Linked DNA regions of Homo sapiens. The protein of the gene in region 2 purifies or fractionates together with the protein of the main gene of each other region. This does not show direct contact. Each region holds a gene or a part of one and is shown on either strand. Other genes may lie near its edges.

Evidence for each region.
Region 1: the proteins of UCN3 (region 2) and ZNG1B purify together in Homo sapiens (affinity purification with mass spectrometry; one large-scale study listed by BioGRID and IntAct). This does not show direct contact.
Region 3: the proteins of UCN3 (region 2) and FREM2 purify together in Homo sapiens (affinity purification with mass spectrometry; one large-scale study listed by BioGRID and IntAct). This does not show direct contact.

What each region holds. Positions count from the first base shown.
Region 1 is NC_000002.12:113,444,152-113,447,806, reverse strand, and holds part of ZNG1B (zinc-regulated GTPase metalloprotein activator 1B), read right to left. Parts: intron 2,844-3,655; coding exon 2,752-2,843; intron 1-2,751. UniProt on the Homo sapiens protein: Zinc chaperone that directly transfers zinc cofactor to target metalloproteins, thereby activating them.
Region 2 is NC_000010.11:5,363,409-5,367,163, reverse strand, and holds the start of UCN3 (urocortin-3 preproprotein), read right to left. Parts: upstream 2,199-3,755; 5' UTR 1,934-2,198; intron 1-1,933. UniProt on the Homo sapiens protein: Suppresses food intake, delays gastric emptying and decreases heat-induced edema. Might represent an endogenous ligand for maintaining homeostasis after stress.
Region 3 is NC_000013.11:38,875,495-38,879,149, reverse strand, and holds part of FREM2 (FRAS1-related extracellular matrix protein 2 precursor), read right to left. Parts: intron 3,129-3,655; coding exon 3,001-3,128; intron 2,903-3,000; coding exon 2,768-2,902; intron 2,034-2,767; coding exon 1,907-2,033; intron 1,017-1,906; coding exon 829-1,016; intron 320-828; coding exon 173-319; intron 1-172. UniProt on the Homo sapiens protein: Extracellular matrix protein required for maintenance of the integrity of the skin epithelium and for maintenance of renal epithelia. Required for epidermal adhesion. Involved in the development of eyelids and the anterior segment of the eyeballs.

The DNA.
Region 1 (3,655 bases), on a different chromosome or scaffold from region 2:
CTTTAACTAATGAGAAGTTGTTTCTTATGGACGGGAAAAGAACGTGGTTTCTTGAGATGGAATCTACTCCTGGTGAAGATGCTATGAACACTGTCAAAATGACAACAAAGGATTTAAAATATGACAGAAGCTTAATTGATAAAGCAGGGTTTGAGAGGACTGACTCCAATTTTGAAAGAAGTCATACTGTGGGTAAAATGCTATCAAATAGCATCATGTGCTATAGAGACATCTTTTATGAAAGGGAGAGTCAACTAATGCAGCAAACTTCATTATTATCTTATGAAATTGCGATAGCCACCCCAACCTTCAGTAACTACTACCCTGATTGGTCAGCACCCATCAACATTGTGGCAAGACCCTCTACCAGCAAAAAGATTATGACTTGCTGAAAGCTGAGATGATTGTTAGCATTTTTTAGCAATAAATATTTTTAATTAAGGTATGTATGTTTTTTAGACAATTCTATTACACATTTTATAGACTACAGTATAGTATAAACACAGCTTTTTTTTTTTTTTTTAAGAAATGGGGTCTCATGCTGTCATCCAGGCTGGAGTGCAGTGGTGCAATCATGACTCACTGCAGCCTCAAACTCCTGAGCTCAAGTGATCCTCCCAAGTAGCTGGGACTACAGGCCTGTGACATCACACCCGGCCAAAACGCATAACTTTTATATGCAATGGGAAACAAAAAAATGTGTGTGACTCACTCTATTGTGATATTCAGTTTACTGCAGTGATATGGAACTAAGCCCACAATATCCCTGCGGTATGGCTGTACAGTATAAGAATCACCTGAAGGGCTTATTAAAAACAGCTTGCTTGACCCCCTCCCTTAGAGATTCCGATTCAGTAGATCTGGGTTGGTCAAGAATTTGCCTTTCTAACAAGCTCCCAGATGAGGCTGAGGCTGCCATTCAACATACTACCAAGTAGCACTGGCATAGAGAGATCCCTGGAATAAAATTTACCTACTTGTGTGTGTGTGTATGAATGTGTGTGTGTGTATGAATGTGTGTGTGTGTGTGTGTGCGTGTGCATGTGCGTGTGTGTGTGTGTGTATACAGTCTTGCTCTGTTGCCTGGGCTGGAGTGCAGTGGCGTGATCTCGGCTCACCGCAACCTCCGCCTCCCAGCTTTGAAGTGATTCTCATGCCTTAGCCTCCTGAGTAGCTGGGATTATGGGGTGCGCCACAACGCCTGGCTAGTTTTTGAATTTTCAGTAGAGACTGGATTTCACCATGTTGGCTAGGCTGGTCTTGAACTCCTGGCCTCAAGGGATCCACCTGCCTCAGCCTTCCAAAGTGCTGGGATTACAGGCATGAGCCACCATGCCCAGCCCCTACTTGTATATCACAATAGTGAGATGATTACTTTTCAACTTTCTTCTTTGTATTTTTTAGGTATTTAAATTTTTTTACAATGAATGTTCCATCTTTACCCAAACAATAAAATCTTTATTGTAAAGAAAGTTAGAAGCAAGAAACATTAAGATTTTTTATAACTACAATTTGTATAAAAGCTTTCTCTGTGATCTTTAGTTTTTCTTTCTTCCTCTGAAAAGCTGAATCGTGTTTAATTAAACTCTCAAAAGTATCAAGTTTTTGTCTATAAAATGGCAAAACTGGCTATGATGAAATAAACTGATATTTGCTATTTCTAATAAAAGCATACAATATATTTTTCTTTCTTACCAGATTCAAATATTTAACACCAACATATTAGTCCAAGTCCTATCATCAGTCAGATTTATCAGAAAGGTATGAAAACCCATGCCTACTATAAGGACCAAAATAGCCTAATTCAATACTACTTTGAAAACATGGGGATGATGTTATTATGTAATTGTTTTAATTACAATAACCACGGATCACATTTGAACTCTCAGGATACTTCAATATTTCTTTTGGACAACTATGACCTGTTTAGTAAATTACCCCCAAATACTTTAATATAGTTTTACAAATCGCCCCAATGCCAGAGACCCAGATCAAAAAAAAAAAAAAAAATAATGGTATGGGTCAGATTCACAGATTCACAGAATAAGCACTAACTTTTATGCAAACTGAAAATAAAGATTTTATCTAAAAGTTATTTGGGGAAAATAAGCAGACTTTATCAAGAATTAGAGCTTGGTAAGAAGGTAACAGAAACCCATTGTTAGAAACAGGTTGACTCTGTGTAGCTTTCCATAGTAGAGTTCAGAGTTCCCTGTCATGATTCCCTTATCAATGCAGTGTAATAACTACTTACACAGCACTTACATTGTATTAGGTATTATAAGTAATCTACAGATGATTTAAAGTATATGGGAGGATGTGCATAGGTTATAGGCAAATACTACACCATTTTATGTAAGGGACTTGAACATTAATAGATTTTGGTATCCTCAGAGGTTCCGGAACTAATACCCCATGGATGCCAAGGGACAACTGTACTTAGAGGTAGAACGTCTCTGCTCTTCCTACATGTCCTTATTTTTAACAACTTCTGTTCTTACAAATAATCCTAAGTCAATCAATAAAACTTCAAATTCTATTAACAGCTTAAAAGTACCAAGAAATACTCCGTTCATTCATTCAACTGCCAAAGAAAATGACAACCGAGTACTTTTCCTCTTTTAAACCAAAAAAAGTTTTTGGTTTAATACTAACAAAAGCTTTAATCCTCATGTTAGATATTCCTCTAATACATCTATTTACAGTATATCACAGAACTATATTCTGGTTATTAACAACCTCACTTCTTACCTGGGTCTGCCAATCCAGTGGTCTCTAACAGTATGTAATCAAATTTCCCCTTCTTTTGCATCAAATTCTCAATAGCTCTAAGGCCATTGTCCCTGGAGAATACCAAAACATCATTTACAGTTAATTACCTAAATATTTTGAAGTGATTATTATAAACACTTTAAAATATATTCAACAACCCAAGACAAAAGTACCCTTAGGAATGTGAAAATTTAACTCACTTCTAACCTTCTAACAAAATGTCCGTCCCATATTTACCAGTGAGAAAACAATAGATGCATATATATAATAGGTAAAAAGAAATCATATACATAATAATACTTTATTAAAATTAAAAGCAGAGGAAACTTTATCTGACCAAGTATCTTTTTATAGCTTTATGAAATTTTTAAAAACCAACATACAAAATAATGATAAAATTTATTAACTATAGTAGTTTAATATAATAGCTAAAGGGACACTGATATTAAACACCATATAATTCTATTTTACATTAGGATGCAAGGTTTTAATTTCCTTTTTTCTTATTTTATCAAAAGTGAAGGAAAATCCTTAATAGATTATATTTTGGTTGTTCAAGAAAGTCTGTTATAATTTTATCCTTGCCAAAACATTTGACACAAAGTCAAATACCTAAGGGAGTAAATGATGCCGAAGAGATTTAATTCACTAGAATACACAAAATTAACAGTACAAGTAGTCATTTTTATAATTCATTCAACAAATATTTGAGTGCTACTATGTGTTGGGTAACTCTTCTAGGGTCTATGGTAGACTAGTGAACACTGTCCTTGAAAACTTAACTAGTAGAACATAATGTAAGGTTTTTCTCTTTTTTGATAGTCATTTATTTTTTTTATAAGGTTGAACACTTAGAAATATGACCAATGACAGATTAAATTCA
Region 2 (3,755 bases):
ATGTGTTCCCTGGAAGTGCTACCTGTCTCATCTCAGTTACAAAAGCAAGGCATTGGGGAGAGGGAGTGAGATCCCTTTTACCTCTATATTTACTTTTTCACATTTTTGGGGTCAATTTGTAAATACTGTGCCTTTTAAAAAATGCATTACCTTCTTATTTTTCAAATCCCAAGTCTACCATCAGAGAAGAATACTGTAATCACGGCTAGGGTGCTGAAGGTGTGGAAAAATCTGTGAAAGTGTCAGGGAGCAAGTGTCCTGCGTGGCGCTCTGTTCTTGGTGCATCTGCAGGTAGCAGACCTTTCTCTCTCTGCAAACCCTCAGCTCTAGCCTGCACACGGTTGTGAGGGTATTGAAAGGTGTCCCCTTACCATCAGCAATGATGCAAAGTTACACAGCAAAGGAACCTCCCAGAACTGTGAATTGGACATGATAGGGACGCCCGGTGCTGAGCTTAGTTTTAGATCGTTTAAAATGTAAGGGTTCTTTGCAACCCTGGATGGTTTCACCATCAAAGTGTGTGAGTGGCTGGGGGCTGGAAGGTAGATTCAGATTTCTTTCCAGGACTTTTCTTTTTAGGATCTGTTTAGATTTGTTTAGGGTTTATAGGATAAAAGAAAAGGAACTCTCCCCAAAGAAGAAAAGATACTCTGTACTTCCCACATAAAGTCTAATTTTGCAAGTTTCTCCTTTTACATTCCTTGGACTCTTCTGCCATATTCTTGGTGAAACAGCACAAAAGTTTAAGATTTCTCTGCAGTCTGCCACGAAAATAACTGGGCACCATCTAGTTATTAATACATTTGAGGGGCAAAGCTCTACACCTGTATTTTTCTCTGGGTGCCTGAAACTCAACCATTCCTTTGGGCTATGGTGACAGTAGCACTTGTCGAGGATGCTGTAAAGAGACACAGTTACTTCTGGGAGCTGTGGCAGAGCCAAGCACTGAAACGTGAGGGACCTGGGTCAGCCTCCAATTCCCAGCACCTCACAGGGAGAGGACAGGACATGAAGCAGCAAAGGCAGGAGGCAAACAGTACTGATCACACATCTCTGCCAAGTGCAGAGCTATTCCTGTGGGCTCCGTTTGTCTGCAAACACTGATAAGAAGTTAAACTGAAACTAGACCACTTAAAACGTTTTAAAAATCTCACATTTGTTATTTTTGGTAGGTGGCTATGCTTGGGAAAGAAATTGCGAACAGGAATTTTCAGAAAACATAAACATCAAACATCCATCTCCCCTTCACAGGTAGGAGTTAGCCATTGTAGGTATCTGCACACACCCCCGCAATGTTCCTAGTGTGGCAAAGGGCTCTGGGCTTTGGTGGCAGAGGACCTGGCTGGGGAAACTCCCTTGCCTCTGACTTTTCTTGGGTGAATCCCTTAACCTGCATTTCACTTGCCGCGTCCTAGGAAGGAGACGTTACCTGCTTCACAGGTGTGCCCGAGAGTGACGGGAGATGGCACAGGTGAAGGTTTGTGGCACAGGTAAACAGTAAGTGCAGGTGTCCTCGCTGCTTTGCAGGCGGCGTGGAGTCATGTCCTGTGGCTCCCATTAGCCCCGGCATCCCTACCCCATCCCCATTTGTAAACTGTCTCCGAGGACTGACTTTCCTGTGCACAGCTGTGCTCTGTTCAGAGAAAACAGATTTGTGTGAACACCTTCTGCCTCTGATCTAACACCTTTGGAAAGAGGGTCTCTCTATACCAACGTGGGAATGTGATTGTGCCTCCCTGAGAAACTTCCCCTGGTCCCTTTGGGGCTGATTTCTGCTGATTGGGTGGGGGGCGTTCAGCATCGCTCCCTTGGGCTTCCACCCAGGGGCGCTAGCAGCTCTCATCTCTCACACCTGTCTAGTGCATGGCACCTCCTGCTTAAATTAGGGCAGATACATTTACCCTTCATAAGTCAGTCCCAGCCACAAGCTTACCCGAGAGTGGACTTCCCTCCGCAGCGAAACGCTCAGGGAGGCCGGCGCAGCTTCAGGGCCAGGAGGGCGGCCCCGTGCACGTCCCCATGAACTTGTGGCTGCTCCGGGGTCTCGGCTCCTGCTTCTCCGGTATTGTTCCTAAGTGGGCTGTGATATTCCCTCTCTATGGAAACGGTCCCCTCCCCTGTGTGTATATAAAAGTGACAGATCACAGGGTGGATCGTAATTCCAGACGTGGTGTCTACGCTGGGATGAGATTTCATTTAAAATACAACCAGAACCAGCCGTCCACGTCATGCAGACGACAGGTGCTCCAACCTCGACCCCTCCCACCTCTGCTTCCCACCCCGCCCTTCTACCCCCCAACTCCTTTTGCATCCTAGCAACTTGCTTCATTGATAAAAGCAAAGAACAAAAAAGAAAAAGAAGAAATAAAAACTCAAAACAAAACAAAACAAAAATCCTGGTAAAGTGAGAAGCAGTGTCTTTGAAGAATTTTATTGCTGATCTTAGTTCTAACTAATTTCAGTTTCCCCCACATTCCCCTTGCCCTAACTCTCCTTCTGTAAATGTAGAGCCTGGACCTGCTTTGAAAGCAGAGAAGGGGTTTAAAATCCACCTGTTGCCGTGTTGTTTTGTGGGTTCTGACCGTGCAGCGTCATCTGGCCGCACACGTAGCCCCTTGTGCTTGTCACACACTCGGTGCCTACTCCCCACATAAAGTCTAATTATGCAAGTTTCTCCTTTCACATTCCTTGGGCTCTTCTGCCGTACCCTCAGTGAAACAACACGAAAGTTTAAGATTTCTCTGCAGCCTGCCGCGAAAATGACTGAGCACCATCTATTTGTTAATACGTTTGAGGGGAAAGCTCTACACCTGCATTTTTCTCTGGATACCTGAAACTCAACCATTCCTTTGGGCTATGACAGCAGGTCATCATACACCAGAGGTCTGGAGGTTTTAGTGGGAAATGGCTTGGATTTTACTCGTTTATGCATCCTATATTTATTGAGGACTTACTGTGTACCAGGTATTGCCAAGACACCCACGAGTTCAGAGATAAGTAAGTTGTGGCCCCTAACCATACAGGGCCTCATGGTTTAGAAAGGTAGGGAAGGCTGGGTGCGGTGGCTTATGCCAGTAATCCCAGCACTGTGGGAGGCCGAGGCGGGCAGATCACGAGGTCAGGAGTTCAAGACTAGCCTGGCCAACATGGTGAAACCCCGGCTCTACTAAGAATACAAAAAAAATTAGCCGGGCATGGTGGCGAGTGCCTGTAATTCCAACTACTCAGGAGGCCAAGGCAAGAGAATCACTTGAACCTGGGAGGTGGGGGTTGCAGTGAGCTGAGATGGCGCCATTGCACTCCAGCCTGGGCAACAGAGTGAGACTCCATCTCAAAAGAAAGAAAGAAAGAAAGGTAGGTAAAAAATGCTACAGAAGAGAGCAGTCCTGTCTACTCAAGACAGGAGAGGAGAGCAGGAGGGGTTTCAGACAGAAAGGATGGATCAGCATGGACTGAGCCAGGGCTGAGAGGAACGGGAGAGAAGGAGGACGATGGGAGGGAGGTGTTGGTGGGTGCAGAGGCTGCTCTGCACTAAGGTGCTCCAAAGGCCTGCGGAGTTGGGAGTTTATTCCATATGTAATGGGGAGATGTGGGAGACTACGGTCTGTTGACCCCTTATTCACAGATGAGGAAGCTGAGGCTGTAAAAAGTGACCTGCTGGGACCCCACAGGCCCAGGGTGACAGAGTCAGGTGAGAACCAGGCCTGACGCTGGGCTCAGTGCTCCTTTCACTGGGCTGAGCTGATGACAAGGGG
Region 3 (3,655 bases), on a different chromosome or scaffold from region 2:
GCCCAGCATAGGGTTATGTAGTTTATTTGCCATATCTTATTCAATGTTCCCATTAACTGTATGCAATATTACTATTACTGCTATTTACATATGAGACATCTGAGGCATATAAATGTTCCATAACTTGCATGTGGGTACACAACTACTACAAATGAGCTTGTTTTTGGCCTACCTGAAAGAGTGGTGTTGAGTCGACTTTAAATCCATCAGATCCAGGCTGATTCACTAAGAGAATGGCTTCAGGGTCATCCACTGCTAGTTTGGCATTAAATAGGACATTTCCAAAACTGGTCGCTTGTGTCTCTGGCTGAGCTTTGTCCTTTAAGCAGTAAGGAAAGTGGTGATTGCTGTAGATAATGCCACGGCTTTTGCCAGGACAGCATGTTTCTCTATTTGTTTTGTGCAAGTACAAATTACTATAAAATGTCACCATTTGGTTTACTAAAAATGATCATTTTGTTGGTTTTTCTATTTTTTTTAAGAGACGGGGACCTTCTCTGTCACCCAGGCTAGAGTGCAGTAGCATGATCATAGATTGAACTTCCTGACTTAAGCAATCTTCCCACCTCAGCCTCCCAAGTAGCTGGGACTCCAGGCATGTGCCACGATGCTCGGCTAATTTTTTAAAATTTTTTGTAGAGATGGGGTCTCACTATGTTGCCCAGGCTGGTCTTGAAATCCTGGCTTCAAGTGATCCTTCTACCTTGGCCTCCCAAAGTGCTGGGACTATAGTGTGGCCACTGTGCCCAGCCTTGTTTTTAAATATAAGACAAGGAGGCTGAACTTTGAAAAATCTATCTAGCTCATTTTTTGGGTCAAAGCACTTACCACAATTTTAAATCTATATAAGAGTGAAGGAGAGTCGGCTAAGCAGCCATATTCTGCATTCATTGGACTATACTTGGGAACATAGCCATCAGCTCCAGTGCATAGAAACACCTTCTCAATGCTGCAGTAAAAGGAGTCACCCAGATTCTGGACAGGATCCACCATGACACGACCATAAATTATATCACCTGAAATAGAGATGTGGAAATGTTATTTCTGTTATATGATAAGGTATATCAACGTGACACTGTAAACAGGTTATGACAATGAGGACACAGAGATTATTTCCTTGCCACCCTCATCTACTATCAAATGTTGAAGGCCTGTTTGCATGAGCTTCAAGATCTGGTACATTCTCAGGCCTCAGGTAAGACCACTTTGCAGACTGACCAGAAGTGACTAAAGATTTATTGAGTCTCAGATGCTCAGCCACTAGTGTGAATAATTTCAAAGATCTGGCCTATAATTTGGCATTAATAATATCCCATTGTGGTCCAAGTCCAGTTTACAAAAATAAGTTGATAAGATATATACTGATACAATATAGAATAACACTAAGAAAGAAAGTATCAATACAAAGCCTAATTAACGTTATTTGTTTCTGAAAGAGGGTTTAATGAAACCCCCTGGTGTTCAATTCTTTATTTCATAACTATTATTGAACCCCTACCATGAGTGCCAGGTATTTCTGCTAGGTATGTGTGCTGGGTGCTGAATATACACCATTGAGTAAGGCAGGCACAATCTTTGCCTGAGAGGCATTTACAGTCTCATGTAGCTGCAGCATTTAAGTTTACACAGATTGAAAAAAAACATTCGAGAAAATCATCTAGACTTGTTCCAAAAGTCACTTAGGTAAGACAGCTAGAGATTAGCTTCCTCAGAAAAAAAAGATACCCAGTTACATATACCCAATCGCAACGACTTCCCACACCAGCCAGAGTGGGTAAAGACCCAGTTACATTCTCAAAACCATAAAAAAAGCTATAATTTGCCCCCTCAAACACAATCCCCAAAAAGCAAAGCACAAAAGATATACATGACAAACAGAGCATCCCTCTCATTTGTAAAGTGATACCTTCTGCAAAAGCAACATCACTCTCTTGCCCGAATCCCATGGATCCATCAGACAACCAGAGACTCTTCTTAGAGAGCAGGTACATTTGGGTGTTCAAGCTAAACTCAGCAGCCACTGGATCACTGACCTAAAACCAAAGGTAAAAGTTCTTTTATGCATCAGTGGTTCTGATGGTGCACAAACATACTGTTCACAGATACATACATTCACCGTACACTGTAGAACACTAAACACTGCATCGCAATTTTCACACCCTACCAAGCTAACTCAGAGAGTTGTAACATTGCTTTTGTCCTTGAGAAGGCAAAACTGGTGGGATCAAGTCATTTTTTGAATGGGACTAAACAGCATTGCTTGAGCTCATTTCCACTGGTTTATTGGGGTATATAAAGGACTTGTAAATATCATTGTCAGTAGAAGGCCAACAGTAAAAATTCTTGAAAAAAAGATGCCATCACATTTTTTATAATACATAATGGCAATTAGGTACTTTGAGGTGGTTTGAGCTACAGGATTTCATTCTCTTTAGAGAAGAACAAGAAAAGAAATGCAGAAGTGCGGGGAAAATTCTCAAATCTCCAAGACAGCAAACTTCAGGAGGACACAAGATAAGATCAGATAAGAAAAAAATAACCATTGCATACATTTAAACTCTGAATTTTACATCCTGTACTAACAACAGATAAAGGGCAAATCTCTCCTCATTCTTTTATCCCTAGCTTCCTTAACTGTCTGATTTCTTTTCTTTTCAGCATGCAAGAATTAAAGTCATTCACGTGTGGATTTTTTTTTTTTTTACTAATAAATGAAAAACAAAGTGGGATTCTGCAAGTCATAAGATAGTAATTCTATAAGCCACACCTGTTGGAATCGGATGTCAAGGTCAAAGGTGACAGGTTCTCTGGGGTTGCAGGTGACTGGCAGGCGGTATTCCTGATGTGATGGGGCAGTGCATGGCACCAGCTTCACAGTATAGGTCCCTGAGTAGTCACGTACCTTTGAGGAGAAGATATTGATATATTACATTTAAAAATCTGAGGTGTAATCAGATGGCAGCAGCAGAAGAAAATTAATTAAGAGTCTTAGTCACTTACGGCAAAGTCAGAGACAAAGCTCCACTGCTGTACTGGCTGGTTATAGGTTGGTTCACTCCTTATGAGGCGGAGGGAAAATGTCAGGCCTGGATGATCAGCTGACATGATCACTGAGCTTGTAAAGGATGCTAGGAAAGTGCCAGTAATTATAATAATGATATAGTGGTTCAATTAAAAGAGTGCATAACAGTTTAGAGTTTTCAAAATAAATGATCATACATTATTTGCTTCTGTTTTTATAAGAAGGCTGCAAAGCAGTCATGGTTAGTATAATTATCCTCCTCTGGCAGATGAAGAAACTGGGCTGTGAGTGACTGTGTGACTTTCCAAAGATCACACAGCTAGGATGTGACTTTCTGATTCCTACTTCAGTACTGTTTCTGCTCTATAGTTTTGTCAAAAGATAATTGTACAGAAATGCTCAAATTGTTCAGAGCTACTTTCTGGGGAGTCACAGCAGCACAATAAAGGGTGATGTGAATGCATTTATTGTGCACTGAAGTTACGAGCTGAACTTAAAATAGTCTATTAGTATCCACACAGCTGGGCAAACCCAATTTATGAATGGAGTCTGATTTTAGTTAGATTGCCTGCAATCATGGCTACACAAAGATTCAGTTTATTAGAAAGGTAGGCATGTAGAAGAAAACTGTAT